4 linked regions of the Homo sapiens genome follow. The protein of the gene in region 4 interacts with the protein of the main gene of each other region in a biochemical or structural test. Each region holds a gene or a part of one and is shown on either strand. Other genes may lie near its edges. The genes, in order: VDR, HDAC4, HDAC5 and ZBTB16.

Region 1 (7,592 bases), on a different chromosome or scaffold from region 4:
AGGCTAGGGTGTCGGGGGCTGTCCTCAGAATTAAGCTACCCCTGTTTTCCCTTGAGCATTAAGCCTCCCCCAACCTTATCATCCCCTCATCACTGCTGTGACCTCTGCTGAGTTTGGAGTGATGATCACTAGGGTGATTAATATTCCATTTTTCCCTGGAAAGTTTGGGTTTATGTCCATTGTCCTGGTATAACCATGCATGGCATCCCCTTTCACTCTCAGAAGTATCCCAGTTTGCAAGATACATTACACAGGCACTCTTTCTAGCATATCTAGGAGGGCACTGACACAGGAAAAGGTTAGGGACAAATCAGAGGGAAGCAAAATGACAAGCAAGGCCTTGGTGGCCCAGAGTGGCAGCCAGGCTGGCTTCAGCCCAGCTGGATCCTCTCAGAACTGGACAATAGTGGAGGGAGAGCCTGAGAACTGCTGCCCACCCTGGGGCTCAAACTGTCTTGGAGTCAGGGGCCTGGTCTGGTGGGTTCTGCTTCCTGCTATCCCTCAGAGGGCCTGGAGTCATGCTGGGCACACAAGAGGCTCTTAATCAAATCTGGTCAATTCCTTATTTCCCTCTACCTGCATCCAAAACAGAATTGCAGCAGGGACAAATGGAAGCTGGAGCCCTGTAATTCTTTATTCAGCAACACACCAAATGTCATCTAGGTGGTCCTCCCGTCTCTGGCTCTCTGGCCCCTAGGACCTGACTGCTGCACAGGCAACAGCGAGTTTCTAGCAGAGGTTCCAGATGCCTATTCCAGCCAGGACAGCGGTGCCTCCTTAGGATGTGGGGTAAGGAATGAAACAATGGGAACTCCCTTTCGTGTCTTAGATAACCACCTGATGTAGTAGCCACCTGATGTAGCCCACTCGGTCCCAGGCCTTTCTCCATTCACAGCCTGGGCTTTGGACACCTGCTATCTGTTCTGGGGGTAGAGTGTAGGGGTTCAGGAGGTCCTCTCGGAGCTTCCTCTGGGGCTTAGTTACAAAAGAGATCAGTTTTGAGGTCAAATAGGGGAAGAATACTGAGAAACCATAAACACAAACTATCAGGGCACCCCAAACAGCACCCGACCTTCCATAATGTTTATACAAACAAAGTCTGATGGCCTCTGCCGAAGAGGAGTAAAGGGTTGGGAAGGCTTTCTAACTCTCATTTTTTCCCCTCCTTTCTTACCCCATTTTCTAGTCCCTCCTTTAGCTTGGTAAGGGTCCAAGTCACAGCTGATCAAGACCAGCCAAACCCAAAGCCATGGGACCCAGCCAGAGCATAGACTGTGAATTCCCCAGCTTTTTGCAGTTTGAGTCAGCCCCACAGCTGGATTGGCCTCCCAGGACTCTTCTCAAATAGGTCCAGAGAGGCTGCTGAGTGGGGGCCACGGACTCTGCAGGGAGGGCTACTTCTGTTCAACGATCTCTAGCACCCAAAACAAAAGCCAGGGAGAAATGTGCAGTCTTACTACCTTCTGGTCTGGCTGCATGCCAGCCCTGAGACTGTTTCAGAAAGACTCACAGTTCCCTCCAGCACTTGGACAGGGAAGGGACGGCAGGTCTCTCAACACACAACACTCTTAGTCCATAGAATTGAGGCTCCAATGTTCAGATAACCCATTTCTACCTCAGCAAATCACCCTCACTCCCTAGCCTGAGTTAAAGCCTTCTTTGCCAACACCATGACTTCTCTGGCCCCAGACTTTCCTAATTTCTTTTGCTCACCCCCTTCACTAGCAGAGATGGGCTGCTAATGAGACCACTAGGCAGAAATGGAAGGAAGGGCTGGAAAAGCCTGCAGTGCTGGGATGCACCTCCTTATCCCAGGAGAAAGATGAGATGTAGATTTATCATAAAGCCACTATCCCTTCACGGTCACCTCCTGCTAGAATCATCTCATAGCCATTCCATAAGCACTGCTGTGTTGGGTATCTGAGCCCCTGCCCATGAGGAAGACCACCTTCCAGCAGGGAGCTGGAGCAGAGCTGAACTCTGCCCAGGAGAGCTTCTGCAATGCTCAGAAAATGCCTGCCCAACTGCTTGCCTGGGCTCTGGCCCCTTTGGCTGCAACTGAGCCCAGACAGGAGGCTGACTCACTCACCGCACGCATAGAGGAGGAGGAGGAACAAGAGGAGGAGGAGGAGGAGGAGGAGAAGGAGGAGGAACTGTGAGAAGGGTCTGGGCTTGGAGACCTAAGGCTCCCCCAGCCCAGGCTAGGTCTCAGACTCTGGTCCCTGGGTGAAGAGAAGGAGGGGCAGTTGTACACTGGCCCTGGAGACCACAGGCTGTTCCCTCCTAGATACTTCTGAATCTTCCTCACCACCACCCACAGATCCAGGGCACCTCACTTTTCAAACAGAAACTACTCCTTGAGCCCCTTCCTCATTTAAATGCTTGCCCCTGAGTTCCTCTGAACATCTATTGACAGGCTGTCCTGAAAAAAAATAGGGCCAATTAGGTCTAAACTCATTGGTAGTTCAAAGAAAAGTAAAAAAAAAAAAAAAAAAAAAAAAATTACTTAAAAGACCCAACTCCACCATCACAGGTGACCATACCTGGGCCCTGTAAGACAATAAATAAGGTTACACACCCTCCACTCCAGCAGTTCTGAGCACCATCGACAGCCAATCGCTCCTTTTCTTATTCCTCCACTCCATGCCAAGGCGCCCCGACAGAAGAAGGAAACAAATACTTCTTGTTGCCCAAGTGCTAAGCACTGTGTTAGCGGAGCATTTCTCCTAAGCGCCGAGGATGTCGCTGCTCCCCTCGCCAGCCTGGCACGAACTTCAGCTTTCTCAAACCTCAGTGCCCCTTAGTGTCCCAGCCTCATGGCACGACAGCCCGGACCTCAGTAGCCAAGTTTACCGCTGAGACTTAGACTCTAATGCTCGCAGCCGGGCGCTCAGGCCCCGGTATCCCAGACGCCCCGACCCCGAGTCCCTATCCTGAGACCCCCTTTCCCGCTGCTCCCGGGTTCGCACCTGGTCCGGCCGGCGGGTGGACAAGCTGTTCCGCGCTCCCGGCGCACACGGCTCCGCTGCCGCCTTTTGACAAGCAGAGACAGCCCAGCACCTGGCCCCGCCTCTCGGTCAGGCCCCGCCCCGGCCCCGCCCCGCCCCTCCGCCCCGCCCACAGGTCCAGTCCTCTCTTGCCAGGAGCTCCGTTGGCGCTGCAACCATCTTGACTTGGAATCAACCACCCTATAGGCCACGCTGTAGCCTTAGATACTCTAACTCGTGAAATTTTCATCGACCGTCGTCCATAGGGCAAGGCACGCTTCTGCCCTCTGTGGGACAGAGTTGTCGATGATTATAGGTGCGGATACCCGCTTCAGCCTGTGTTAATCGGGGATGCAGCCCCCCACCCTTCCTGCCGTGGTTCTACCCAGCCTGCTGCGGACGCCTGAGCCAGGTGCGTCACCCCCACCTGGGCTGACCAGGCCAGGACTTCGTCGTCCGCGGGACGCTGGGGGGCGCCTGCCGACTGGCACCGGCGGCTAGCTCCGCACGAATGGGAAATCCCGGGCTCCGCTCGCCAACCTGTTACTGCTGCAGAACGCCAGGAAGCTCAGCCTGATCCCACAGATTAGGGTAAAATATCCCGGGGGGCCGAAGTGGAAACCGGAGTTGCGTCATTGCTCCCACCCGATATCACCTTGGCAGCGACCGCGGCTGACCACGTTCCCGGCCTGTCGCGAATCTCACCCAAGGGAGCTGAGTCTCAGCTTCCCTGGTCCCTGGTCCCGAGTTCCGCCTTCCCCCCCCGCCCCGTGGCATCGGCGTGAGGGGAAAAGATAAAGACTACCTCCTGAGACCTGGAATTGTGGATGGCTGCGGAAAACTCACCACAGGAAATTTTGGCTTAAAGTTATTCTCTGCTTCCCTTGACTGTGTGATAGGCACCGCTCTATCTGCTAGAGGACAGGTGAAAAAGATGGGGTTCCCTCTTCTTAGAACTCACTGTGCAGTGGGAGAATGTATAAATAAATAGTAATTACAACATAATCTTCTGGAATAGAAATGCTCACAAAATCATCCAGCAGTCGATGACCTCCTTTAGCCAGGGAAGATATTGCTATTCGCCTCTTACAGAGGAGGAAACCATGGCTCAGAGGGACAAGGTGAAAGGGTGGGAAATTGAGGCATAGAAAGTTTAAGTGATATGCCCAACATGACTCAGCTAATCAATGAAGGACTAGTGCTAGAGCCCAGCAAATCTGCTGGTGCAATGGTCTCTGAACCATTTCTGAGACAGCTATGCTGGACTACATCATAACCAGCCCCTCACAACTCAATAATAGGGTTAAAAGAAATAGACTGAGATTAAATAGAAGGAAGAACCTTCCAACAGTGAAGTTTGTTAAGCACTGCAACAGTTCATTATGGAGGTATCATGGCAACTTTCTGGGAAGACTTAAACAAAAGACAGAAGAGAGGCATAGCGTTTGATTGAACTTGGGAATGGACCATTTATTCTGAGAAACAGATGAAGTGCCCCTTTAGAGGTCCTGCCAGTCTGATGGATGGATTCTCTACCTGTAATGAAAGTAATAGGAAGGATCCCCTTGCCCAAAGCATCGTGGGAAAGCTAGCGGTGATTCTTGTGGGAAGAAAAGCATAAGAGGAAATTTCCAACCACCAATACCTTGGGACATTCTCTGCAAGTCCCATGAGCCTCTGAAAGAGGTTGAACACTCAGAAGTCACTTTTGTGGTGCTTGACTGGCCTGACATCTTGCAAATAAACCTTATCAAAAGATGGTGGAAGATGCGTACTAAGTATTCCGTAGTAACTGAGAGTTAGTCTTTTTTCACAGCCTTTGTTGGAGGAGAGGTACTTGTAATTCACATGTGTAAACTGCTTTATAATTTAAAAATTCTTTGGAATATCTTACTTGATCTTTATCATAGCCTTTTCAGACATGAAGAGTAAAAAATACCGTTCCATTGTACAACTGATGTGCAGAGTTGTCAAGGTTTCTACAGCTGAGGAGTGTCAGAGCTACTGGACCCAGATCTTCTCTCTGCACATCCCACTGTTTCATGCTGCCTCTAAAAAACAAAAAAAAAATTTCCATGCATGCACTTTTCACAGAGTTGAAGAACTCAGAGGTTCTGCGTTTGGCAGATGGGCAAGATTATAGATGTCATCACGGTCCCCAGCACATGCCGTCATCAGCCCCGTCACCTTGTCTGTAACCATGTTCTTCCCATATTCCCCCAATACCTGAACTGTTCTCTCTCATCCACCTCTCCAGACCCTCTCCTCTTTCAGGTCCTGCCTATTCCATCAGGCTTTTCCAACATCTCCAGGAAAGGAACTGTCAATTCTCTGGTCTTTGTAGCGCATGCATTTTCTATATTGCATGGTTTGGCACCTGCTAATGAACCATCTTGTATTTACATTGAACAAAGATAGATTTTTTTTTGCCTGTTTTATTCTTAGAAGGAAGGTTATTTTGTGAAAGTAGAAAAGCAACATCATATGAGATTCACTTCTCCTGTGTTCTGTTGTAATCCCTAATTGTCTCTGGACCCTACTTCTCCCTAGCCAGGTACACAACTGGAAAGGGAGGTTGCTGTCCCACACCGTGTTCTCTTGATGCCTCGATGACAAGCACCATTCCTGCACTACAGAGTTAATAGTTTTAAATTCCCCTATCTTGACTTCTCCATAAACCAGGTACCAGAACCTCTGCAGAAGACATTAATTTTTCTTTTCCCTGAAGTTAACATTTCTCATATTCTCACTTATCCCTGGGATGGGTAGTGGTCTTTATTGGGATGTACAGATTGTTTTTTGTCAGTACTCATCTCTGCCAAATTACATCAGGGAATATCTCGTAAGCACTTGCTTGGTTAATATTAGCCAAGTCTGGTGGTGTGCTAGATACTCTGCTATAGTGCTATAGACTCAAAAATCTATATAGAAACAAAAGAGCCCTTCCCGGTGCATCTGACTTTGATGGAAAGATTCCAGAGGTACTAGGCTGAGGATTTCGTTTCATTCATTTCATTCCTGTGCATTTCATTCCACAGAGTCCAAAGAAAGGCAGGGCCTGGTCTCTTGACCTCTCTGCCAGGCTCCAGGCACCTGGGGATGGCCTGGGCAGTTGTGGCTACAGTCAGGCCACAGGACTGCAGCCTGTCCTCATCTCTGGGCTTCCTTTTTCTGCAGCCTGGCCACTGTCCTCGAGGCTGGCTGATGCTCTCTGCACTTCTTGCTGTGGTGTCAGAGCTAGAGTGGGTCACTTTGTCCCTGTGAGTCTCCCAGAGACCCTGTCCCCATGGACAGAGGTTTTTTGAGCTGTCTAAAGGCTGCTCTGCAGGTAAAAATGTGCCCTTTGAGCTCTCTCTGGAACACTCCCATCTGACTGTTTGTTTTTCCCTTTTTTAGGGCCATTTTCCCCCCTTAAATATTTTATGGTTATGAGCACGGTAGGACTGAAGAGAAGCCTCTCTTCAGTAAACACCCAGAGAACATTCTGAGAGACATGAGCGTGGAGTTAGAAAGACAGAAGGGACCAGGCCATCTTTTCAGTTTGTTCCCTTGTTTTAGAGATTTTTTAAAAAACACACGTTAAGTTCAGAAAGATTAATTCATTTATATTTCCTAACCCAAGTTAAGACAAAAAGGATCAGGGATGACTCTCCTTATTTATGTTCCAGATGGTAAAAATAGAATGAATAAATGTAAGAAGCTGTAGCAATGAAAGCAAACCAAGGGGTCTTCCCAGGACAGTATTTTTCAAAATTTTAACTGCAACCCATAATAAGAAATAAGTTTTTACTGTGACCTAGTTTACTCAGGAATATATATAAGTTCCTGATACAAAAGATGTTCTACAATGTTTTCTATTATTTTCTCTATCCTCTTTTCCTTCCTTCCTCCCTCCCTCCTTCCCTCTTTCATTCCTTTTTCTTCCTTTCTCTCTTTCTTTCTTCCTTCCTTCCTGCCTTCCTTCCTTTCTTTCTTTCCTTGCTTTTCCCTTCCTTCCTTCCTTCCTTTCCTTTCTTTTCCTTCCTTCTTTCCTTCCTTCCTTTCCTTTTGGGATCCACCAAATTTATTTCACAGCCCATTAATGGGTTGTGACCCAAAATACAGTATTAAAAATCCTACCCTACACAGTGGCTCAGGCCTGTAATCCCAGTACTTTAGGAAGTTGAGGTGGAAGGATTACTTTGAGGCCAGGAGTTTGAGACCAGCCTGGACAACATAGTGAGACCCTATCTCTACAAAAAATTTAAAAATTATCCAGGCATTGTGGTGTGCGCTTGTAGTCCAAGCTGCTTGAGAGGCTGAAGTGGGAGGATCGCTTGAGCCTAGGAGGTCAAGGCTGCAGTGAGCTATGATCATGCCACTATGCTTGAGGCCTGGGAGGCAGAGTGAGACCCTGTCTCAAAAAAAAAAAAAAAAAAAAATCCTGCCCTAGATCATGGGCTAGGCGGACTTTATTGTTTGAGTAGCCAACTGACAGAAGACTCCATCCAGGGAGTTGATGGAATCTTGCCTTTCTGAATGACAGAACAAGTCCCTCTCACCATAGGACCCCCTCATTTAGAATCTGGAACATGAGATTCACAGAAATACATTTGCGAGACCATC
Region 2 (7,020 bases), on a different chromosome or scaffold from region 4:
ACAGACGGCAAAGCCGTGGCACAGTGTCCATCAGACCGCTCGAGTCATCCTCAGGGCCAGGGGCCTCGGCTCGGCCTCGATACGAATCACACTGTGGCCAAGGCGCAATCTGGACATGCCATAGCAGCTGAGCCACCATCACGAGCCGGGCTCTGCATACCGGGTAGGGACGCTGGCCCTTCAGGTCCCTAACAAGCGCAGCATGCCCTGGGGGCTGACAGTGTCCGTGGGAAGCATCACGGTGCTTCTGAGCTTTCAAGAGTCTAATCTCTGTAAACTATGACACAGTCCCTGCAAGGACAAAGGCAGACGAGAGCTTGTTCTCAAACTGTACTAAGGTCCTTCGGGGAGACGTCCACCACACCACGACCTGCTGCAGAGACACCCTGAGCAGGTGCAGGAGCTTCAGAAAGTCCTGCAGGTGCATCCAAGGCCCGGTCAGCAGCAGGCCCCGGGCAGGGGACATACCCTACTCCTCATTCCTCCCAAGACCTGCCAGCAGAGAGGGCTGTGTGTCCTCAGAGCCAGCGGGGGAGGAGGAAGAGGAAAGCTGAGTCTCTGCGGGAGAGACACTCACTCAGCAGATGACAAAGGACTCACTGAGGTGATGGGGTCATGACAGTGAAGCTGGGATCTCAACCGATGCTCACTCAACACCCCAGAGCCATGGAACACAGGACATCACTGCAAATCACTCTTGTCCACTGCAGGCACATTGGCAGTGTGACGAGCAGGAGAGAGCACATCCACCAATCAGACCCTTCACCCCACACCCACGAGAGCACCGAGGAACCAGGAGAAGGATACGTGAAACAAGAGAAGAGGCCCTCCGCAGCTCCCACGTGCCTCAGCTCTGGCCTCCGCTTAACCAGAAGAATTCTGAAAACAGAACTTCGTCAGAACGCAGCCCGCGTGTGCTGAAGCTGGCACGCTGACATGGAAAGACACTCTTCTTCAGGGAGGGACCGCGGGAAGCACTGCACATGGTTGGTTGTGAACTCCGAAGCCCAAAAGGTCAACATCCCCACCAGCTTGGGAGGTGAGTTGGATGCTCCCACACCAGGCCCCATCCTGCCCGGGCCACCATGCCGGGCAGGGGTGGGATGGCCCAGCCCGGCTGCTACCCTCGGATGGCAGCGGGCATGCACGTAACGGCTCTGCAGGTCAGCTGCTGCCCCAGCCAGCAACCGAGCTACGCTGGGCTGTGCTGCACACTCAGGGGCAAAGGAAAGCAAGCTGCTTCAGGGCAGGCACTCGAAAGGCGAGAAGACACAGGCACCCCAGTGACATCTCCTTTGATGCATCCTTCTGACCTGGAGAGCCAAGGGGCGGATTCCAACACAGAGCCCTTGAGCTGGCAAACAAGTGTTCTCCAAAGAATGGGGACTGTGACCACCTATGAGGATTTTTTCAGTGCAAAATCTGATGTAAATTTTATAGTAGAGGGGGTTTTAATATGCCAGAACCTCCCAATGGTTTTCTTTATGGCTCACTTTAAAGGTCCAAAAGGTCAGAGGGCCACCCACATCCTGCAAGCAAGGAGGCACAGTTGGCATCACTAATTAAGATACACCCCGCTTGTGTGGACCCACAGGCCATCTTCCCCTCCTTGTCCACAGCCCCCAGAGGTGGAATGGGGGTCAGCCTCCTTAGAACACTCTAACCCCTGAGCTTACGGGGCTCGGACATGAGTCCTGGGGGTGGGTAAGTCCTCAATAGCCAGCTGGGATTAGCCCCAGGCCACAGGGAGGACTGAGGCTCAGGGGCCCTTGGCCACGCTCTGCTGACCTGCTGGGGGCCCACTTTCTGCCACTTGACTTACATGGCACGGTGCCAGCCAGCAAGGCCCCTGCAGATGGGCCAGGCTGGGCTCAGCCTCAGACCCGGAATTCTGGTGTGTAAACCGGTGGCACTGGGGGTGCCAGCTCGGGTCCCCCAGCGGGTCCCCTCCAGCACGGTTTCTACACAGACTCCTGGCAGGCTTCAGTCCTGACAGCTACTCTACAGAATCCTGGACCTAGGCACAGAGGAAGCTCTCGCCAGCACTGCTAGAAGGAAGGAACCCCCTCCCTTCTGGATGCGGCCCGTCTCAGAGCCACAGGACTGGGACCCCCGGCGTGTGAGCCACCTTCTTCACCTTGCCCTTGTTTTGGAAGCTGCCCTTGCTTTTCATGCAGAAGTCCCCACAACAGCACCACCAAGCATGTGCCCCAAGGAGGGCCTAGCCGCGCCATGGACCACCTGGAGGCCTCCTTGGGATGCATCTGAATGGGCCTGCCTCCACAAAGTTAGAACAAGAGAGATCAGGTCCATCACCCAGCTGGAGCCAGGCACCAGTGCACAAAATAGAAAGAACAGAAGCAAACTCTCCATTAAATGCAAGAAGACTACACATACATGAAAACGCAAGGAAGTCCTTTGTGCAGACCACACCTCCACCCCACCCAGGCAGCCTGCCAGTTGGCCCGGCTCATCACTGGCTCACGCACTCTGGCCTCAGAGACCTCAGTCACCAGGCCACCATCTGGCCACAATGCCCTTTTCACAATGCAGCCCCGAAACTCTGGCTCTGGCTAAAAAGGACCACACCCCATTCCCACCCACCCAGCCTCCCCTTCCTCCTCCTCATCTGGGCCTGGCTCCTGCACCACGGCTCTCCCTACCAAGCAAGCCCTCCAGCCACAGCCCTGGTTCTCAGGATGGTGACCCGTGTGCACCTGCCTGTTTAGCTCCTTTTTCTCCTCTGTCCCTACCAACACCAAAGCCTCTTGTGGGCAGAGGCCAGTTTTCCTGATCAAGCCTGGGGTCATGGGGCTGGCCACTGCGTCTGGCACAGAGAATGTGTTCAACTGAGTCTCATCTCATGTAAAACCTAGTACTTGGGCTGGGGTGTAAAATGAGTATTTGCAAAATAATAACTAATCAATTAGAAATATTCAGGGAACATGGCCCCCAAGGACCACCCCCCCTCCACCCCCAACCCCACCACCAGGGAGGCCAGTGGAGATACCACAGAAACTTCTCTTCCTCAGTTTAAAAAAGAACCGCTCCAGCAAATAGCAACACATAAACCAGATGATGGGCCATTCCCAAGGGAAAATGCAATTCCATCACCGCTTGAACAATACTCCCACTTGGAATGCTGGTTCAGACTTTCAGGTCCTAAGAACTGATTTATTGTTTCAAGCTTAAACATCAATCCAGCAAAAGCACTTGACTCACACAGACGGAGTACTTCATAAACAACAGTAAACTCACAAAGCCCAACACTCACATTTTTAAACAGAGCAGACTCCAAAATGTTTATGTACACAAACATATTAATGTATCATATTAAAATTATGACGCTAAATAAGAAGTGATTAAATAATGTCATTAATTCTAATTTAAAACAAGCAGAGAAAAACTTCTTCATAAAAGCACCACTCGCCTCCTCACACGCCGGGGCCCTGGGCGAAGCGGCTGGAGAACAAGCTGCACACACCTGCCTTGGCCTTGGCACAACAGTCGCATTTGCCACTCGACAGCTGTGTTGAAGGCCCTTCTCCCTCCCATTCCTTTCTGCATCACAGAATTCCCTCCACTTGCATTTATGACATCTCCTTAGGAGCATGTAATCTCCAAAATCAGGACCAAGAAGTTCCCAGATGGGGGCAGGGGGTGTCAGGAAACAGGCAATTCCAGAGCACTGGCAAGAACCCCGCAGAGGGGCCAGGCCAGAGGTGGGGCCTCACCCCAGCTCTCCCACCCAAGGCCCGCATTGTGCCATTCACTGGGCTACCTACTCATCCATTCATTCATTCACTCATTCATTTTCTTTCATTCTTCGAGCACCTACACTGCCAAGCACAGGGTACAGAGCAGGCATGAGGCCCTCAGGGCCCCTCAATCCTACAGAGCCCCAGCTAGTAGAAAAGGTGGCATTAAACAACTAAGGTCACAATGAGCTCCTTCCTGAAATTGCACAATGGGATGCTGTTAGAAAGGAGGAAAAAAGCTATTAGGCTAAGTTTAACAGGGGATCAAAGGATGAGAGGATGAGCATGAACTGAGGGGCTGGAGAAGAGGAAGGTAAAGGGAGGCCATTCCAAGGAAGGGGAACAGTGTGTGCAAAGGCCCCGAGGTCAAAGGGGACTTAGAGAGAGCTAGAAAGTAAAGCAGGTGGCAGCTGAAACTCCACAAACACAGCAAGTGCTATCAGATGAGGCTGGTAAAACAGAGGCCAGGATCAGGCAGGCCTTCCAGGGCCCTGAGACCTTAGGATCCTAAGAATACAGGAAAGTCATGCCAGGGTTTCAAGCAAGGGAATGAGAGGTACAAACCTGCTTCTGGTGGAAACCTGGGAGACTGTTTGTAGGATGGGCTGTAGCAGAGCCCGCTCAGACCCCGAGGGTCAGTCCCCACCTTGAAGAGCTTACATGTGAGTTAGAAAAACAAATGCCCCTAAATTCTTCTATTGCAAAGCATATTTATCAACTTGCCAAGGACTTAAAGAGTACTTTTCTTTCCAATGAAGATATCTAAATGTTTTCAAATTACTACTGTAAAAAAGTAATACACGCTTACCAAAAGAATCTCTACAATACCACCATGTATAAAAGAAAAGTGTACCCCGTCTCCTCACCTCTGATGGTTACCTTAGAGACCCATGTACTTAAAACCAGGAGTGGCCCGGGGACTGCTCCAGACCCCGCCTTTCCCTCTTACACTGCACACTTCTGCCTGTCTACACATGGAGGATGCCACAGTGCAGAAATGCCAGCAGGTTTAACAAGTACTCCTTTTATAAATAATGCAGCCCCGACCTCCACACACGTCTGGATATCTACACACTTATCTTCTTTCCTTAGAATAGATTTCAAAATGTAGAACTGTGGGGACAAGGAGAATGGCATTTAAGATTTTGACACTTAAGACTTTTCTAGAGAGCAATTCGGTAATCACTATTTTATGTTTATACATTACATATATAAACTTTTTTGGGGGGGACAGCCCAGGGTCTCGCTGTGTCACTCAGGCTGAAGTGCAGTGGCAAAATCACACCTCACTGCAACCTTGACTTTCCAGGCTCACGTGATTCTCCTGCCACAGCCTCCCAAGTAATGGGGACTACAGGCACACGACGTCATGCCTGATTTTTTTTTTTTTTTTGTAGAGATGAGGGTCTCACTATGTTGCCCAGGCTGGTCTTGAACTCCTGGGCTCAAGTGATCCTCTCACCTTGGCCTCCCAAAGTTCTGGGATTACAGGCATAAGGTACCTCGCCCAGCCCTATTATATTTTATATAATAATACATATGGGTCTCTCCAGAGAGCAAATGATAATAAATAACAGCCAACATTTATATCATGCTTACTACATGCCAGGCCCTATTCAAGGAAATTTCCATACATTAACTTAAACTTTGCAAAAACCTTACAAAATAGAAATTATTATTATGACCAGCAACAGGTATCATCAAACTCGCCAATATGATAGGCATAAAGGGAATCTCCTTCACACTGAATTGATTAGTAATGCTAACCTTTCATCACTGGCACAATGATTCAATGTTCATACGTTCTGCTCATCTTGCAATGGTGATCTCATGCTCTCCTTATTGGTCTGTAAAAGCTCTTTATATATTGACTGTTAAGCTTACACAGGCATAATGTGGTATGTATTTTCTCTCTCGTCTCTTAGCCCGGCTGACGGAGTCTTTTGCCAAAGAGATTTTTTAAAAAACTCTTATCCTATTAAATCTGTCAAGATTTTCTTTAAGGTTTCTGGGTTGGTATTGAAAGAGTAGATTAACTTGGTCCTCAAATGCTTTCTTCCAATAAAATCTTCCAAGGTAATCAACAGACCGAACAACAAACACTAAAAGCTGCTCCGGCTGAAGTGGACTTGGAGCATTAGCTCCCTTCCGTCACCCCCACCTGCCTCCAGGCGTCCTGGGGACTTTGCAGGAGAAGAACATGATGTCTTCTAGTTCTGCAGTCCCACACGTGACATAAGACAGCATGAGAAAGCCAGAAGTACTGCCCAGACCTATGAAACGCGCCTGTAACAGCGCCAAGAACAGTCAACACAGCACTAGAAAGTCTAACGACACTGAACTAGAAAGGTATTCCAAATCGTCCTCTTCTCTAAGAGGCTGTGTTCGCCCAAGCACCTCGACAAGCTGAACTTCAGCTTCAAGGTCACCACCAGCCTAGAAGCAGAGGCACGGAGAGGAACTGGCCTTTGGGACTGGAGATGCAGGGGGTGGCACATGGTCCATTTCATTCTACCCCCAGTTCCTCCAGAGGTAGAGCCCACCTGCAGGACTGTGCTGACACCTACATGGTGAGTGCATGAAACAGCACGAGCCCCAAGCAGGTGCTCATCTGGCGTCAGCTACGGGAGCACGTGACAGCTGCTCGTGGCATCATCTCCTTGCTCCAGGATACATCCTCATCCCCCGACAGTGATACAGGAAGTCACGGTGGGGGCAATCTATGCAGGACCCCGACCTTCCTTCCAGGAAGTGAGTAGGAGGTGTGTCAGCAAGGCCACAGCAAGGGGACATGTAGGACCCTGACCCTCCTTCTAGGAAGTGAGTAGGAGGTTTGTCAGTGAGGCTGCAGCAAGGGGACATGGCCATTTAATGCTGCAGGCACCATGGCCCTCATGCCACCCCAAAACAGGTCCCACTCTTCCCACGCACAGAAGCCCAAGAGAAGAAAACTGACCGTATGAAGAGAACTTACTGACCTTAGTGACACTTGTTCCCACAGAAACGCTTATGAATGAGTTAAGGTCTGTTCAAAGGTAGCATCACTTTTGACATGGCACCCCTCATCTGACCTGAACCAGAAGGTGCAGTACCCGCCTCTAACGTCAAGGCCAAAAACCCAGAGCCCACCACACGGCAGGGCATATGCTGACCACCTGAAATCAAAACAAACACTCCCTCCAAATCCATCCTTTCCGACTCCTTACCCCAGGACAGACTGGGGGCTGCCAACAACAGGGCAGGGGCTCAGTCTCGGTTCCAC
Region 3 (7,892 bases), on a different chromosome or scaffold from region 4:
TGGGCAGGGATCAGATTACGTAGAAACTTTGGGTGTTTCTTTTTTTTTTTTTCCCCCAAATATGAGGAAAGGACCAGCTGCAGTAAAATCCCCTGAAGTGGCCAGGAGTGGTGGCTCACTCCTGTAATCCCAGCATTTTGAGAGGCTGAGATGGGCGGATCACTTGAGCCCAGGAGTATAAGACTAGCCTAGGCCGGGCACAGTGGCTCATGCCTGTAATCCCAGCACTTTGGGAGGCCGAGGCGGGTGGATCATGAGGTCAAGAGATCGAGACCATCCTGGCCAACATGGTGAAACCCCGTCTCTACCAAAGAAATACAAAAATTAGCTGGGTGTGGTGGCACGCTCCTGTAGTCCCAGCTACTCGGGAGGCTGAGGCAGGAGAATTGCTTGAACCCGGGAGGCAGAGGTTGCAATGAGCCGAGATCGCACCACTGCACTCCAGCCTGGGGAATAGAGCGAGACAAAAAAAAAAAAAAAAAGGCTGGGTGCGGTGGCTCACGCCTGTAATCCCAGCACTTTGGGAGGCTGAGGTGGGCAGATCATGGGGTCAGGAGATCAAGACCATCCTGGCTAAGATGGTGAAACCCCGTCTCTACTAAAAATACAAAAAAAATTAGCCGGGTGTGGGGGCGGGCGCCTGTAGTCCCAGCTACTCGGGAGACTGAGGCAGGAGAATGGCATGAACCCGGGAGGTGGAGCTTGCAGTGAGCTGCGATTACACCACTGCACTCCAGCCTAAGCGACAGAGCAACTCTGTCTCAAAAAAAAAAAAAAAAAAAAAAAAAAAGACTAGCCTTAGCGGCCGAGCACAGTGGCTCATGCCTGTAATCCCAGCACTTTGGGAGGCTGAGGCAGGTGGATCACGAGGTCAGGAGTTTGAGACCAAACTGAGCAACATGGTGAAACCCTGTCTCTACTGAAAATACAGAAATTAGCCGGGCGTGTTGGCCTGCACCTGTAATCCCAGCTACTCTGGAGGCTGAGGCAGGAGAATCGCTTGAACCCTGGAGGCAGAAGTTGCAGTGAGCCGCGGTCATGCCACTGCACTCCAGCCTGTGTGACAGAATGAGACTGCGTCTCAAAAAAAAAAAAAAAAAAAAAAAAGACTAGCCTGGGCAACACAGGGAAACCCCATCTCTACAAAAAATACAAAAATTAGCTGAGTGTGGTGACATGCACCTATGGTCCCAGCTACTTGGAGGCTGAGGCAGGACGATCGCTGGAGCCTGGGAAATCGAGGCTGCAGTGAGCTGTGATGGCGCCACTGCACTCCAGCCTTGGTGACATGGCGAGACCCTGCAAAAAAAAAAAAAAAATTAGCTGGATGTAGTGGCACGCACCTGTAGTGCTAGCTACTTGGTAGGCTGAGTTGGGAGGATCACTTGAGCCCAGGAGTTCAAGGTTATAGTGAGCTATGACTGTGCCACTGCACTGTAGCCTGGGAGATACAATGACTCTGTCTCAAAATAAATAAATAAGTAAGACAAAGTAAAGACAAACATTCTGGTATTTATTCTTCTAGGCTTTTTTTGTTTCAGTTTTCTTTTTTTTTTTTTTTAGACTGAGTCTCTCTCTGTCACCAGGCTGGAGTGCAGTGGTGTGATCTCAGCTCACTGCAACCTCCACCTCCTGGGTTCAAGCGATTCTCCTGCCTCAGCCTCCCGAGTAGCTGGGACTACAAGGCATGTGCCACCACGCCCAGCTAATTTTTTGTATTTTTAGTACAGATGGGGTTTCACCCTATTAGCCAGGGTGGTCTCGATCTCCTGACCTTGTGATCCGCCCGCCTCGGCCTCCCAAAGTGTTGGGATTACAGGCATGAGCCACCGCGCCCAGTCCTCCTTTTTTTTTTTTTTTTTAGAGATGGGGTCTCCATATGTAGCCCAGGCTGGGCTTGAACTCCTGAGGTCAATGAATCCTCCCTTTTCAGCCTCCCAAGTAGGTAGGACTACAGGTGTGTGCCACCATTCCACCATGTCTGGTTAGGCTTTTTTTTTTTTTGAGACAGGATCTCACTTTGTCACCCAGGCTGGGTGCAGTGGTGTGTTCTTAGTTAGCTCACCTCTCCGGCTCAAGCTATCCTCTCACCTCAGCCCCCCAGCGTGAGCACAGGTCTGGCCCTTGGCCAGGCTTTTTGATATACACATATACTCAGGCATATGAATCTAGTTTGTTGTTTTTATAATAATGGAACAATTCAGTAATACTTGTTTGAGTCCTGATTTTCAAGAAAACAATATATCACGGGCATCTTTTCAGGTCGGTATAGACCTATAAAATTTTTTTTCTTCTTTTTTATTTTTTATTTATTTATTTATTTTTTGAGACGGAGTCTGGCTCTGTCGCCCAGGCTGGAGTGCAGTGGTGCTATCGCAGCTCACTGCAACCTCTGCCTCCCAGGTTCACGCCATTCTCCTGCCTCAGCCTCCCGAGTAGCTGGGACTACAGGGGTCCGCCACCACGCCCGGCTAATTTTTTTTGTATTTTTAGTAGAGACGGGGTTTCACCATGTTAGCCAGGATGGTCTCGATCTCCTGACCTTGTGATCCGCCCACCTCGACCTCCCAAAGTGCTGGGATTACAGGCGTGAGCCACCGCGCCCAGCCTATTTTTATTTTTTTTTTTGAGACGGAATCTCGCTCTGTCACCCGCCCAGGCTGGAGTGCAATAGCCCGATCTCGGCTCGCTGCAACCTCCGCCTCTCGGTTTCAAGTGATTGTTTCGTCTCAGCCTCCTGAGAAGCTGGGATTACAGAAGTGCACCACCACGCCCGCCTAATTTTTGAATTTTTAGTAAAGACGGGGTTTCACCATTTTGGTCAGGCTCGTCTCGAACTCCAGACCTCGTGATCCGCCCGCCTCGGCCTCCCAAAGTGCTGGGATTACAGGCATGAGCCACTGCGCCCGGCTATTTTTTTATTTTTTTTGAGACGGAGTCTCACACTGTTGCCCAGGCTGGAGTGCAGTGGCGTGATCTCGGCTCACTGCAACCTCTGCCTCCAGGGTTCACGCCATTCTCCTGCCTCAGCCTCCCGAGTAGCTGGGACTACAGGCGCCCGCCACTACACCCGGCTAATTTTTTTTTGTATTTTTAGTAGAGAGGGTTTCGCCGTGTTAGCCTGGATGGTCTCGATCTCCTGACCTTGTGATCAGCCCGCCTCGCCCTCCCAAAGTGCTGGGATTACAGGCGTGAGCCACCGCGCCTGGCCTCTTCTTCTTCTTTTGTTTTTGTTTTTTGTTTTTTTGAGACGGAGTCTCGCTTTGTTCCCCAAGCTGGAGTGCAGTGGCGCGATCTCTGCTCACTGCAACCTCCGCCTCCCGGGTTCACTCCATTCTCCTGCCTCAGCCTCCCAAGTAGCTGGGACTACAGGCGCCCACCACCACGCCCGGCTAATTTTTTGTATTTTTAGTAGAGACGGGTTTCACTGTGTTAGCCAGGGTGGTCTCGACATCCTGACCTCGTGATCCACCAGCCTCGACCTCCCAAAGTGCTGGGATTACGGGCGTGAGCCACCATGCCCGGCCCACGCCCGGCCTCTTTTTTAAAATACAGACAGTGTCTCGCCATGTTACCCAGGCTGGTCTTGAACTGGGCTCAAGCAATCCTCCCGCCTCGGCCTCCAAAGTGCTAGGATTGATGACAGGCAAGAGCCAATGCACCTGGCCCCTTTAAAACTTTTTTTTTTGAGGCAGAGTTTCACTCTTGTTGCCCAGGCTGGAGTGCAATGGCACGATCTTGGCTCACTGCAACCTCCGCCTCTCAGGTTCAAGGGATTCTACTGCCTCAGCCTCCTGAGTAGGTGGGATTACAGGCGCCTGCCACCACGCCCGGCTAATTTTTTTGTATTTTTAGTAGAGACGGGGTTTTACCATAATGGCCAGGCTGGTCTCAAACTCTTGACCTCAGGTTATCCGCCTGCCTCCGCCTCCCAAAGTGCGGGGATTACAGGCGTGAGCCACCATGCCCGGTCCCCTATAAAACTTTTAATGTCTGGATAATATTTTACTGAATGAATGTCTCCTGCTTTGCTTGCCAATTCCCTATCGATGGATATTTAGGTTGTTTTCAACTTTTCACATCATTACAAACAATCTCATGTTCATTTTTTAACATAACAACGTTTATTTATTTGGAATACATTTTTGTTAGTGGAATTGCTGGGTCATTGACAAATTGTCTAGGTCTAATTAAACATGTTCATACTGTGTACCAAGAGGAGATGTAGCGTGGATGGCACCAAAGTCAGGGAAGTCTTTCCGGCTCCTGGTCTGCTGGTCTGCCCTTTTGAAGGCCTTGGAGTGTTACAGCCATACCCTGGCCTTTCCCAGGCTTTTCTTTCCCTGGCACGGATGCAGTGTGTGCGGTCAGAGCTGGCGAGTTCGAGACTTGTCCGAACCATCCACCCGCAGCCAGGCCCCGCTGCAGAGGCTGCGGTGGCCCTCCCAGCCCCTGGGAATCTATCCCCAGGTCCCCTCCCCGACCGCGGGAGGGCGTGTTAGGGGAGCAGCTTAGGCAAGCGACGATTGCACCATCCACGTTTTGAAAAGAAAGTCCGGGGAGCGCAAGGAGGAAACTTTTACAATCCAAAGGTTGAGCCCCAGCATCCATACTCGGCCCCTGCAGCGATCCTTCCACTCCTGCTCGCTGGGTTCCGATCCCTTCCCTTCCACCCCGTCTCGGCCGAACCCTGTGCTGGGCACTGGCCCTTTAAGGAGCTGTCACGATGGCGTCGCTGGCCCCGCCCGGCGGGGAGGGCCGAGAGGCAGGGGAGGGGTTGGTGGTGGCTGCGGGCAAGGGGAAGGCGGGGGGGGCTGGGGGGGGGGTCTGGGTCTATTTTTAGCTCCGGGTCGGGTCACGTGACGGGAGTGACGTCTCCGAATGTTGTTGTTGGTGGCGGCGGCGAGCGGAGCCGGAGGAGCCGCCGCAAAGATGGAGGAGCCGTCGAGGAGGTGCTGCCGCCGCTGCCGCCGCCGCTGCTGCCGCCGCCGCCCGCGAAGCCGGAGCTCGAGCCGCAGCGGGTGAGCGCGCCGCCCCGGCCCAGATCCCATCTTCCCCGGACCCCGGGACGCGAGGCGGCGCCCCCTCCTCCTGCTGTCTCTGTCCGCGGGCTCCCAGCGCGCGCGCCGCGCTCCGCGCCCCCCTTCCTTCCTCCCGGCCCTGGGAGCCAGCCGGCGCCCCCCGGGAGCATCGGCAGCCCGTGAGCGGGACATCGGGGTTGCTGCGCGCGCCCCTCCCTGCCCCTCCCAGACAGGGGCGCCTTCCCTACAGGTAAGGGAGGGGCCCGCCTTCTCGCGCCCTGCGCCCCCAAATGGCTCGGAGACCGGCCGGGGTTGTCTGATTTGCCCCTTCCCTGGCGGCGCATGTTGCGTTGCAGAGCCATTTGAGCCCTGCACCCGGATTCTGTGCAGACCCCTCTTCGCTGGACACCCCTTTCTTGGTACTCTGAGGTGAGGGGTGCTGTCCACCCAGAGCGCTTCTCCCCATAGCTACGAACGCATCCTTGATTTTATGTCCTTGACTTCCGTGCATGAGGAGGGGGACTGCGGAGTCCACCTTACTTCTCTCTCCCATTATTCTCACCCCGTCTCCTGTGAGGCGTTACTGCGTTTGTTGCCACCCTCTTCTCCTGTCTGACACCTTGGAGCCAGGATGCGAGAGCTAGGAGATGAAATGGAGCTCCCCCCCAACCCCTTCTTGTCTTGGGTGGATGCCCCCCATTTTTCATCCTGGATCTGTATCTCATGGAAGCGGGGGCACTACCAGTGCCTTATTAACTTGGGGGGAGTCAGCTTCTCCACCCCACCCTTCCCTGGGGCCCTGGGGAAGATGAGAACTGGCTGGGTGTAAGTAATTAATCTGGGAGCTTGGTGGGGGCTGTTGAAGTGGGGAGGTTGGGTGCTTCCTTTGGGAGAGGAGATGACCACTTGATACCCCTGGCTGATACCCCTTCTGAAATGAGGTGTGTCCCTAAAGAGGAAAGGTAACAGCTGCAGTTGCTTTTAGGAGGGTGCAAAAGGGACCCATCACTCAGTCAGTGACCACCATGCTTTTGGGATCTGGGATTAGATTTGGAGCTTGGGGAGGTGGTGGTGATTGGTTTCAGTGTCCAACTGGGAGGGGAGGATGGAGCCAGATTATGGGAACAAAAGGAGGTGGGGGGGAGGGTGAGATCCAGGAGTCTTGGTCAGAGGGACCCCTAGCCAGATTGCCTTGCAGGATTGCAGTCTGGGTCTGGGTCCTGCCTTTGGCTTCCTCTTAGTTTCAGAGGATGTAGGCAGGCAGGCATGGTCTTCAGTCTCCCCAGTCCTAGGCACCCTGAGCCTATGCTGGCTGTTGAGATGCTGGGCTGGGCTGGGCTGGGCTAGGCTGGCTGGGCTGGATGGTGGATGAGCCATGTTGGGGGCTGCCTGCTTCTTCATTCCAGTCTTCCCTCCTTCCTCTCCCTCCCTAAACACAAAGCTTGGGGAGATCTTGGTTTGTCTCCTTCCTCTTTTCTTGACTCCTCTCTTTGCCCTCTCTTCACTTGAACTTGGATCTGGGCTTTCTTGACAAAGCAGTAGGGGTCTCTCTGAGTTAGAGAAATGGGCCCCCAGTATCTCCACTCTGTCCTGGGAATGTGGGCATGCCAGAGACCAGAGAGACAGATCTCAAGTGTGGGTTACTTGGGGGCAAGGATGGAGGAAATGTTAGTTCTGTGCCAGCCTCCCCTTCTTTTCCAATATATCCTCCTACTTTGGCTGGATCATGTAATTTGGAGGGGGGCAGCAGTTTCACATGCCCCACCCACCCCAAGTAGCTGCAGAGACAAAGGTTTGCTTTGCCTTCCGTAGGGGTGGCATCTTAATTGTGTGTTTAGAAATGGGGCCTGGGAATGTTGGGCGGGGGTCATTTGTGTTCCCGCATAGTGGGGGAGGGGGCATCAGCTATAGGAGCTGGGGGTAGTGCAGTCGGTGCTGAAGTACCAGCTGCTCTTTAATAATTAATTCTTCCTACTCACATCCCTTTGAGGAGGGATGTCTGGAACACAGCATTAGGCTCAGCCAGCCTGCTAGAGGACGCACTCCTGTTGGTGGCAGTAGGGGGGGGAAGGGGGAGACAGCAAGGGGGGGTGGTTCTTGGCATTTTTGGAGCACTGTAGCTTGCTCATGAATGAAAACCTGATGTAGCCCGTGAGGGGGCCTATTGTAGCCGACTTTAGCTAATTAAACTTTCTCTGCCTTTCTTCTTCCCTATCCCACCTCACCCCAGGCCCAGCCGCAGCCCTTTCTTGAATGGGGACCCTGCCTGGTAGTGCTGGGAAGAGGGTATCATTCTGCCTGAGGTTTTAGGGCAAACAGACCCCGTCTTCTGCCCTCTGCCTCCGCCTCCTCCCTTCCTCCCCTCTCACCACCCCCCTCTCTTTTTTTTTTTTTTTTTTTTTCTAGAAATAGCAGCCTCCTCCATCTGGCTTGTGCAGATGCCTGGAGCTGCGTCTGAGCAGACAAACAGAAATGGGCCGATTGCAAAAATGAATTTGTCAGCCTGGTGCCTTTTTTCCTTCCCTGTCACCCTCCCCCTTTCCCTGGTTTGGGGCCTGGACATCCAAGTCAGCCACCCTTCATGGCTCTGATCCTTCTGGGCTTCTGTTGGCCTAGCTTGGGGGAGGCACTAGGCAACAGAAGCTCTCAGAGGCTGAGGAAAGTGGTAGGCTGTGGCCATGGTCAGGAGGGGTCAAGATAAATTCCTAGTGCCTTTGACCTTTGGGTGGGATGTCTTGGCTTGTAACTTTTTTTTTTTTTTTGAGATGGAGATTCACTCTTATTGCCCAGGCGGGAGTGCGATGACACAATCTTGGCTCACCGCACCTCTGTCTCCAGGGTTCGAGTGATTCTCCTGCCTCAGCCTCCCGA
Region 4 (7,020 bases):
CACATGTTAAATGAGTTTAAATAGGAAATTCTTGAGTCTGCCCAGGGAAAAGAATAAAAAGAACTTAGAAGGAAAAACAAACAACAACAAAAAAAAAAGAAAGAAAAAGTCACCAACACACACGTATCCCCATCCCGATTTGGAAGCACGGTGTGCACCTGGCGTGAAATCTTCACCCTGAGAGCTGATTGTGTCAGTGTGGCCATAATGTACACAAAACTGGCTGCAGAACTCAAAATCCAATTTGTGGTATGTTGATTAACTCTGTAGCCTCTTTAATGAGCTTGACATTAAGTGCAGGACAAACGAGACTAATTAGAGCCCCCTCCAGCCTGCCCAGTGCACCTGTGACCCCGCCCCCCCCAATCTGTCCTTACTTGGTGCTTTCTCTGGCACTGGCCAAGCCCAGTGTCTGTCGTCCTCCCCACCCCAGCCCCATCCTGCTGGCTCCTCAGGCCCCTCCCTTCCAGCCCCTCCCTTCAGCACAGCTGAGAGTTTATTATATGATGAGCCGTGTGAATCAGGGATCCATCAATGCCAAGAGCACGGCTGGACTAACCTACCAAACACAGCTGCTGATGCTAAACACCCGGCCCCAGCAGCAAATGGGCCAAGAACAACGGAATATTAATGAGGCATTGTGTGTGGGGTGTGCACAGCCTGTATATGGCTTGTGTGCGCAGTGCCTCGCTGGTGTGAAAATTGATGGGTGTTTCTCTGTGTGTGCATAGGCAGCACACATGCTCCGTGTTTCCTAGAATAAGCAAGGGCTTCTCCCTAACTCTGGAAACAGCCCCTCCCCGTGGATCTGAGCCATGACTGACACAAGAGCATGTGACATTTTCATATCTGAGCTCTGAGAAGGTGGCATGGTCAGAGCAGGGCACATCCTGGGTGGATTTAGCAGGACTGAGATCATTCAAGTCACATGAAGCCAACTGATTGGACCCAGTGGCATGCTCAGAAGTGGCTGAAAGGTATCTAGCCATCTTTCATAAGACCGAATGAACCTGGGGAACTGTTGAGGGAGGCGTTCATAGGAAGGTGCATATAGCTGCAGGGGAAATGCTTACGCAATCGCTGTAGAGAAAGTCCTTGTCAACATCCCACTCTCCTGGGCCCTTTTTATTGAGCCCACCCCTCTGGGCCCTACCTCCGTCCTGTCCCAGAAATTTTAAGTAGTTCTGTGCAAATCTGGTGATGCTAAGACAATGTGCTCCCCTGAACAAAATGGCATCCAGAAGTGACAGCCAGGAAGGCTCCTTAATGAGGATACCTGCTGCTGGCTGGCCAGGCCAGCTCAGTCCATGAGAAGTAAAGCTCTTCCCTTATTTAGCAGAGCCTGCCACCCATGCAAGACCTGGTCTGCATACTCAATCTCTGAGCTGTGACAAGACTCTCAAAATGAGGAGAGGGCCTACTGTTCCTTTACGTGGCATGCAGAGGTTTTTACAAGTATACGCTCTGTTATATACCCAGATAGAGACCTGACCCCAACCCTCCCTACAAACACAGCACACAAAGGCAGACTCAGAAATGGGCATTCCTTTAACCAGGTAGTTTCAGCAGAGCCCCAGTTTTGTCATAGAGAAAATAAGGAATTTAAGCCATCCACTCCCCTGTTAGGGAAAACTGGGAGCTGCTGCAGGAAAGCAAATGCCTCTTGGCCATCAGGGACCAAGTGTCCCCATCCCTCAAGCCCTAGAGGCTGGTGGCAGGGAATGGCCAGCCCCTCAGCACCTGGCCCAGCCTCCTTACCTTGTACCCCCTCCCTTGTCCCATCACCTGGAACTGGCTGAGCAGTGATATTTCATTGCTCATCGTTTAAATGCCCTCCTTGTCTTCCCTAAACAGGGTTAAGGTCCAAGTACAGGCCTTTGTTACTGTGGGGAAAGTAGGATCACTGCTTCAACTTGCCCTCAGAAGCCCGAAGCTGACTTCAGAAATGTGTATGGATAGAGCGGCGGGGCATCAAGAGTGGTGGGAGGCAGGGCAGACAATGTTAAGAGACCCAGCAGGTCAGTTTTTCTCAAAATTCATTTTGGGTCTACCTACATGAGAATCCCTTGGGAATACATATTAATAATGCTGAATCTGGGACCCCACCCTGGACCCATGGAATAAAAGGTTCTGAGAGTGGGACCCAAGAGCCTGCCTTTTTAATGAGCATCCTGTGTTGAACACGGAAAGACTTTGAACCGACGGTCCACAGGAGGGGACTGGGAGAACTGTCCACATTTACCTGCACGACGGGCAGCCTCTGCACGTCCAAGCCTTGAGCAGAAGGACTGAAGGCTGACTCAGCCCACCACCTCCACTTTACGTCCTTGGAGGTAAATATAGACGCTGGCTCCCAGAGACCCAGATCCACCCATCAGCTGGACTGACCTACCTGTATGTGAGCGCAGGTGGCGTTTGAGAGCCGTGTGGCTGGGGAAGGTGCGGTTGCACTCACTGCAGATGTAGCTGCGCACGCCCGCGTGGACCTCCATGTGCTGCTGCAGTGCGCTCTGCGCCTGGAAGCGCTTCCCACACAGCAGACAGAAGACGGCCATGTCAGTGCCTGTGGGAGACAGGAGAGGGGGTGCCTCAGAAAGGTGGGAATACAAGGTGCATTCTTTACCCATCTGGAGTGAGAGCCAGTGTCGGGACTCACACCTCCAAATCCCCATGCTCAGGGGCAAATCCAGAGTGGGCCCAGGCTATGCAACACTGAGCACCCAGTATGTGGCCCCAGTGATGGGCAAAATCGACGTCGTTCCCGAGCTCTGGAAGCTAAAGCTAAAGGATAGACATTGATCAAATACATCGCAGCAGCAAGGGTAGTGGGCAACTGTGTCGGGTGGTATGTAAAAGGCGGCAAGGTACTAAGACAGCATATACCAGATGGACTTCACAGAGTACAGGGCAAAAAGTGGGGGAGGCAAGGTAGACCCTGCGAGAAAAAACAATAACAAAGATACTATGGGCCAGCCATTGTTCTAACATAACTAATATAAATCCAAAACTCAAAAAGCTAGCCTCTGTTATCCTCATCCCTTAGACAAGGAGACTGAGGCACAGAGAGATTAAGTACTTTGGCCAAAATCCCACAGAGCAGTGGTCCCCAACATTTTTGGCACAAGGGACTGGTTTCATGGAAGGCAATTTTTCCACGTATGGTTGGGGGATGGCTTTGGGATGATTCAAGCACATTACATTTATCATTAGACTCTCATAAGGAGTGTGCAGCCTGGATCCCTTGAATGCACAGTTCCCAATAGGGTTCATGCTCCTGTGAGAATCTAATGTCGCCACTAATATGACAGGAGGCGGAGCTCAGTTTCACTCGCTCGCCTCCTGCTGTGCAGCCCAGCTCCTCACAGACCATGGCCCGGGGGTTGGGGACTCCTGCCATAGAGTTCGTAAGTGGCAGGGCTGGGGTTCACACTCACACACCCTAGATTTTAATGCTTTCCCAAGACTAGCTACAGATCCTGTTTTGTTTTTTTTTTTTAACTACTTCTCCACTCACTAAAGCATGAATCTTAGGTCCATTCACTCAACAAGTATTATTTGATGCCTTCTACAAGCAAGGCTGTCTTTTTGGCACTGGGGATATAACCAAGGAAGAGCATGCAAAGTCCCTGCTCTCATGACCGACGTTACCCAGAACACCAGGTGAATGGCGGAATCCGGAAGATGGAATAGTGTCTGTGAACACTCTGGGCCAGGAGGAAACATGGCCGGTGGGAGGATCAGACAGAGGAATGGTGCAGTGCAGCTGGGGAAGAAGAGGAGGCTAAAGGGAAAGGCAAGGGCCAGGCCATGCAGGGTCTTGCAAACCACGTCAAGAGATTTAGTTCCATCCTAAACCCGATGGGCAACTGTCAAAGGATTGAAAGCTAGCGAGTGATGTGAGATTTTCATTTAATTCTAACTGGCTGTTCATCCCCAAAGTACCCCACACATACAGGCTGCCATTTTCTGTTTGTTACCAATCCCTTTCTGACACTGCTCTGGAGCCATGGCCGAAATTTCCAGCTGCAGCACCACAGGAGGAAGTATCTGACCTTGTGTCTGAGTCCTAACTGGCAGCTCAGTGCCCACCCTTTTGGGCTCTGTTTTCCTGAGCACAGGAGCTCCCCGGCAGGCCCATCTGTGTGTCTCTGTGCTGGTGCCTGGGCAATATCACCTGCACTTGGCCCCACACCGCTGTCCCCTGTGTGGGAAGGCACAAGCAGGAAACGTAAGTAGGCCTAGCATCTGTCAGTCCAGTCCAGAGTGGGTGGGGGGAGGGGGTAAAGCTTTGGCTGCTGGAAGCCATGGGCTGCTCAGCATGGAATCGGGAAGTGTCTGGTGGAAGGTAGGGGGAAGAGAAGGGATGGCACGAAGAACCTCCCTGCCTTCCTGGCCATCAATGGAGATAGCAAGTGAGAGGTCTGGTCCTCACCACCTCCGTCCCACTCATGGCTGGGTTAGGATGGACTAGTAGGCAGGCAAGGCCCACCTCTCACTGTCCCCCACACTTCTGTGCCCCTCACACCCACCCTGATATCCCTTCCCTTTGCAGACACTGAAGTCTAAGCACCTGGAGCCACGCCCCATCTCACCAGCAGTCAGGAAGGCTGAGCAGGGAAGGAGAAAAACAGCCAGCACAGGATTTTGCTCCTGGCCAACAAAAAGCAGGAAGGAAGGGGAGCGAATCTAGGCGTTATGCTAGGTACCTTATCTATGTTGTCAGTTCATTTAAAACTTGCAATCCTACAAGGCAGGCATTCTTATCCCCCTTTTTACCAGTGTAAAAGAGAGATTAAATAACTTGCCTAAGATCACACAGAAAGAGGCAGAGTTGGGATCTGAAAATATCTCGGTTTGTCTTTCAGAAACCACGGGGCTGGACTCAATGCTACCTCTGGAGCTGACTGCCCGCCTGTCTGGGCTTACCCTGGAAGAGGCCCAGTAAGGATGGTACAGAGGACTCCTGCCTCTAGTACAGCTCCAGCAATGGCTAGAGAACCCCTGGCCAGGAGTGGGCAGTAGCTGGGGCTGGGTCACAAGGCATAGCTCTCTGAGGCCTTCCAATCCCACTGGGAGCCACCAAGGTCTCTCAGAAATGCTGAGTAGTCTACTCAGCTTCACTTGCTGGAGGGAGACATAATGAGAGATGTATCTTTCTGGACAGAAGCAATGCCAAGAGTTGACAGTGAGTCTTCAATGTCCCTCCCTGCTTGGCCGACGTACACAGGAGGACAGTGCATCTGCAATGCGTTCTGTGCCCGGTGGCCCCCACTCCTTCAACTTGAGAGCCCCCAGCATCTACTCCCTCTCTGCCCTTAACCCCCACCCCACAGAGAGCCCAAATTAAGCCAGGTGTTCAAACAGCTACCTTAAATCAGTAGGGTTGAGTAGGCTTTGGAGGCCAGCCATGCCCTTTAAGAGCCAAGGCTTCTCCTTATGCATCCTCTGAGATCCCCGGCATGGAAGGAACCTGGGCAGAGGGAACATGAATGGCATTCCCAATAGGACATCTCAGCCTATACAGCCAGACCCACAGGTGCTCTGAGTGTCAATACACCCAGCAAGGCAGACTGCAGCACTCTGCCCCCTTGGCCTTTCCAAGGCCCCTCGATACTGCCCCACTATGCTGTCCCTACTTCTCAGGGTGGCCTGAACCCACTTCATGTCCATTCAGCCAACTCACTGAGCCACTACCAAGTACAGGCACTGTGCTAGGTGACCAGGGGCAGGCTAAGGCTGAGCAGAGAAACTGGGTCCCAGACTAGTGGGAGATGCTGAGTTAACAACCACCCAGAGGGTAAGGCAGGGCGACTCCAAGAGCTCCTGAGATTTTGAGTTAGGCTTTTAAAAGTTGAGTATCTGAGAAGCAAAGGACAAGAAGTTGGGACACATGTGCCAGGCTAAGGAGAGAGACACCACTGGCAAATGTCAGAGCAGATGGGGCCAAGGTCAGGCCCTGGGGATGGAGACAAGCTGGGAGGGTGATGGGAGTCAGATCAGAGGGCTGCATATGCCAGGCAGGACAGGTTGGACTTTATTCTACAGGCAATGCAGTGCCATGAAAGGACCGAGGGTTGCTATGATCCTAATGTCTGGGTCCCCCTCTGATTCCTTTTTTGAAATCCTAACCCCTAAGGTGATGGTATTAGGAAGTGGGGCCTGGGAGAGATAATTAGGTAATTAAAATGGAATGAGTGTCCTTGTAAAAGAGGGCCCAGAGAGCTAGCTAGCCCCTTCCACCACGTGAGGACACCGAGAAATCAGCAGTCTGCAACCAGGAGGAGGACCCTCACCAGAACCTGAACATGCTGGCACCCCAATCACAGACTTCCCAGCCTCCAGAGCTGTGAGAAATGCATGTCTGCTGTGTATAAGCCACCCAGTCCGTGGCAGTTTGTTATAGCAGCCTGACTTGACTAAGACGAGTGGTGCTAGCACGATCTGACCTGTGTTTGAAGCCAGTGACTCTGGGCACACATGGGGACCAACAGCAGCAGCAAGCGGTTAGAAGCAGCGAGAGGGCTGATGGGCCACTGGAGGAGGGTAGGGACCAGACCAGGGCAGAGGCTGCCAGGGCAAAGGGAGAGAGAAAATCCTAGAAAGGTGGGACAGCAAGGGAGGAGTGGCACGCAAAAAATCCCAGATGGCCAGTTCCACAACTGGCCAACAGGCTGGAAGTCATATGGTCACCAGCTGGAAAGGAAACACTATGATGTCCCTACAGTGGTCTCTCTCCCCTTCCTGGGACATTCCACAAGGTGCAGGGGTGCTCCTTGGTCACGTATCCACCAACCAAGGCTCCCAGGGGAAGAAAGGGGAGCCTCTGAGACTCAGCATCCACTTTCCCCATTTTTCTGCTTAGAAACTAACAGCTATGATGATAGAAAAGTATTTTTAAAAAAATGGAAAAGTGGGGGAGATGTGGATGAGACACAAGAAAAGCTATTGGTGCATGCGAGTTAAAAATCTAGAGACTAGATGTGAGTTATTAAACAATTTGCTGGCGTTTCAGCCTAGCTG

Evidence for each region.
Region 1: the proteins of ZBTB16 (region 4) and VDR form a complex in vitro, tested with the Homo sapiens proteins (one study listed by BioGRID).
Region 2: the proteins of ZBTB16 (region 4) and HDAC4 form a complex in vitro, tested with the Homo sapiens proteins (2 studies listed by BioGRID).
Region 3: the proteins of ZBTB16 (region 4) and HDAC5 form a complex in vitro, tested with the Homo sapiens proteins (2 studies listed by BioGRID).

Annotation. Positions count from the first base shown.
Region 1 is NC_000012.12:47,901,986-47,909,577, forward strand, and holds the start of VDR (vitamin D3 receptor), read right to left. Parts: upstream 3,010-7,592; 5' UTR 2,970-3,009; exon of another isoform or gene 2,646-2,969; coding exon of another isoform or gene 2,579-2,645; intron 1-2,578.
Region 2 is NC_000002.12:239,391,005-239,398,024, forward strand, and holds part of HDAC4 (histone deacetylase 4), read right to left. Parts: intron 1-7,020. UniProt on the Homo sapiens protein: Responsible for the deacetylation of lysine residues on the N-terminal part of the core histones (H2A, H2B, H3 and H4).
Region 3 is NC_000017.11:44,120,633-44,128,524, reverse strand, and holds the start of HDAC5 (histone deacetylase 5), read left to right. Parts: upstream 1-4,883; 5' UTR 4,884-5,021; exon of another isoform or gene 5,022-5,271; intron 5,272-7,892. UniProt on the Homo sapiens protein: Responsible for the deacetylation of lysine residues on the N-terminal part of the core histones (H2A, H2B, H3 and H4).
Region 4 is NC_000011.10:114,237,710-114,244,729, reverse strand, and holds part of ZBTB16 (zinc finger and BTB domain-containing protein 16), read right to left. Parts: intron 2,564-7,020; coding exon 2,393-2,563; intron 1-2,392. UniProt on the Homo sapiens protein: Acts as a transcriptional repressor. Transcriptional repression may be mediated through recruitment of histone deacetylases to target promoters. May play a role in myeloid maturation and in the development and/or maintenance of other differentiated tissues.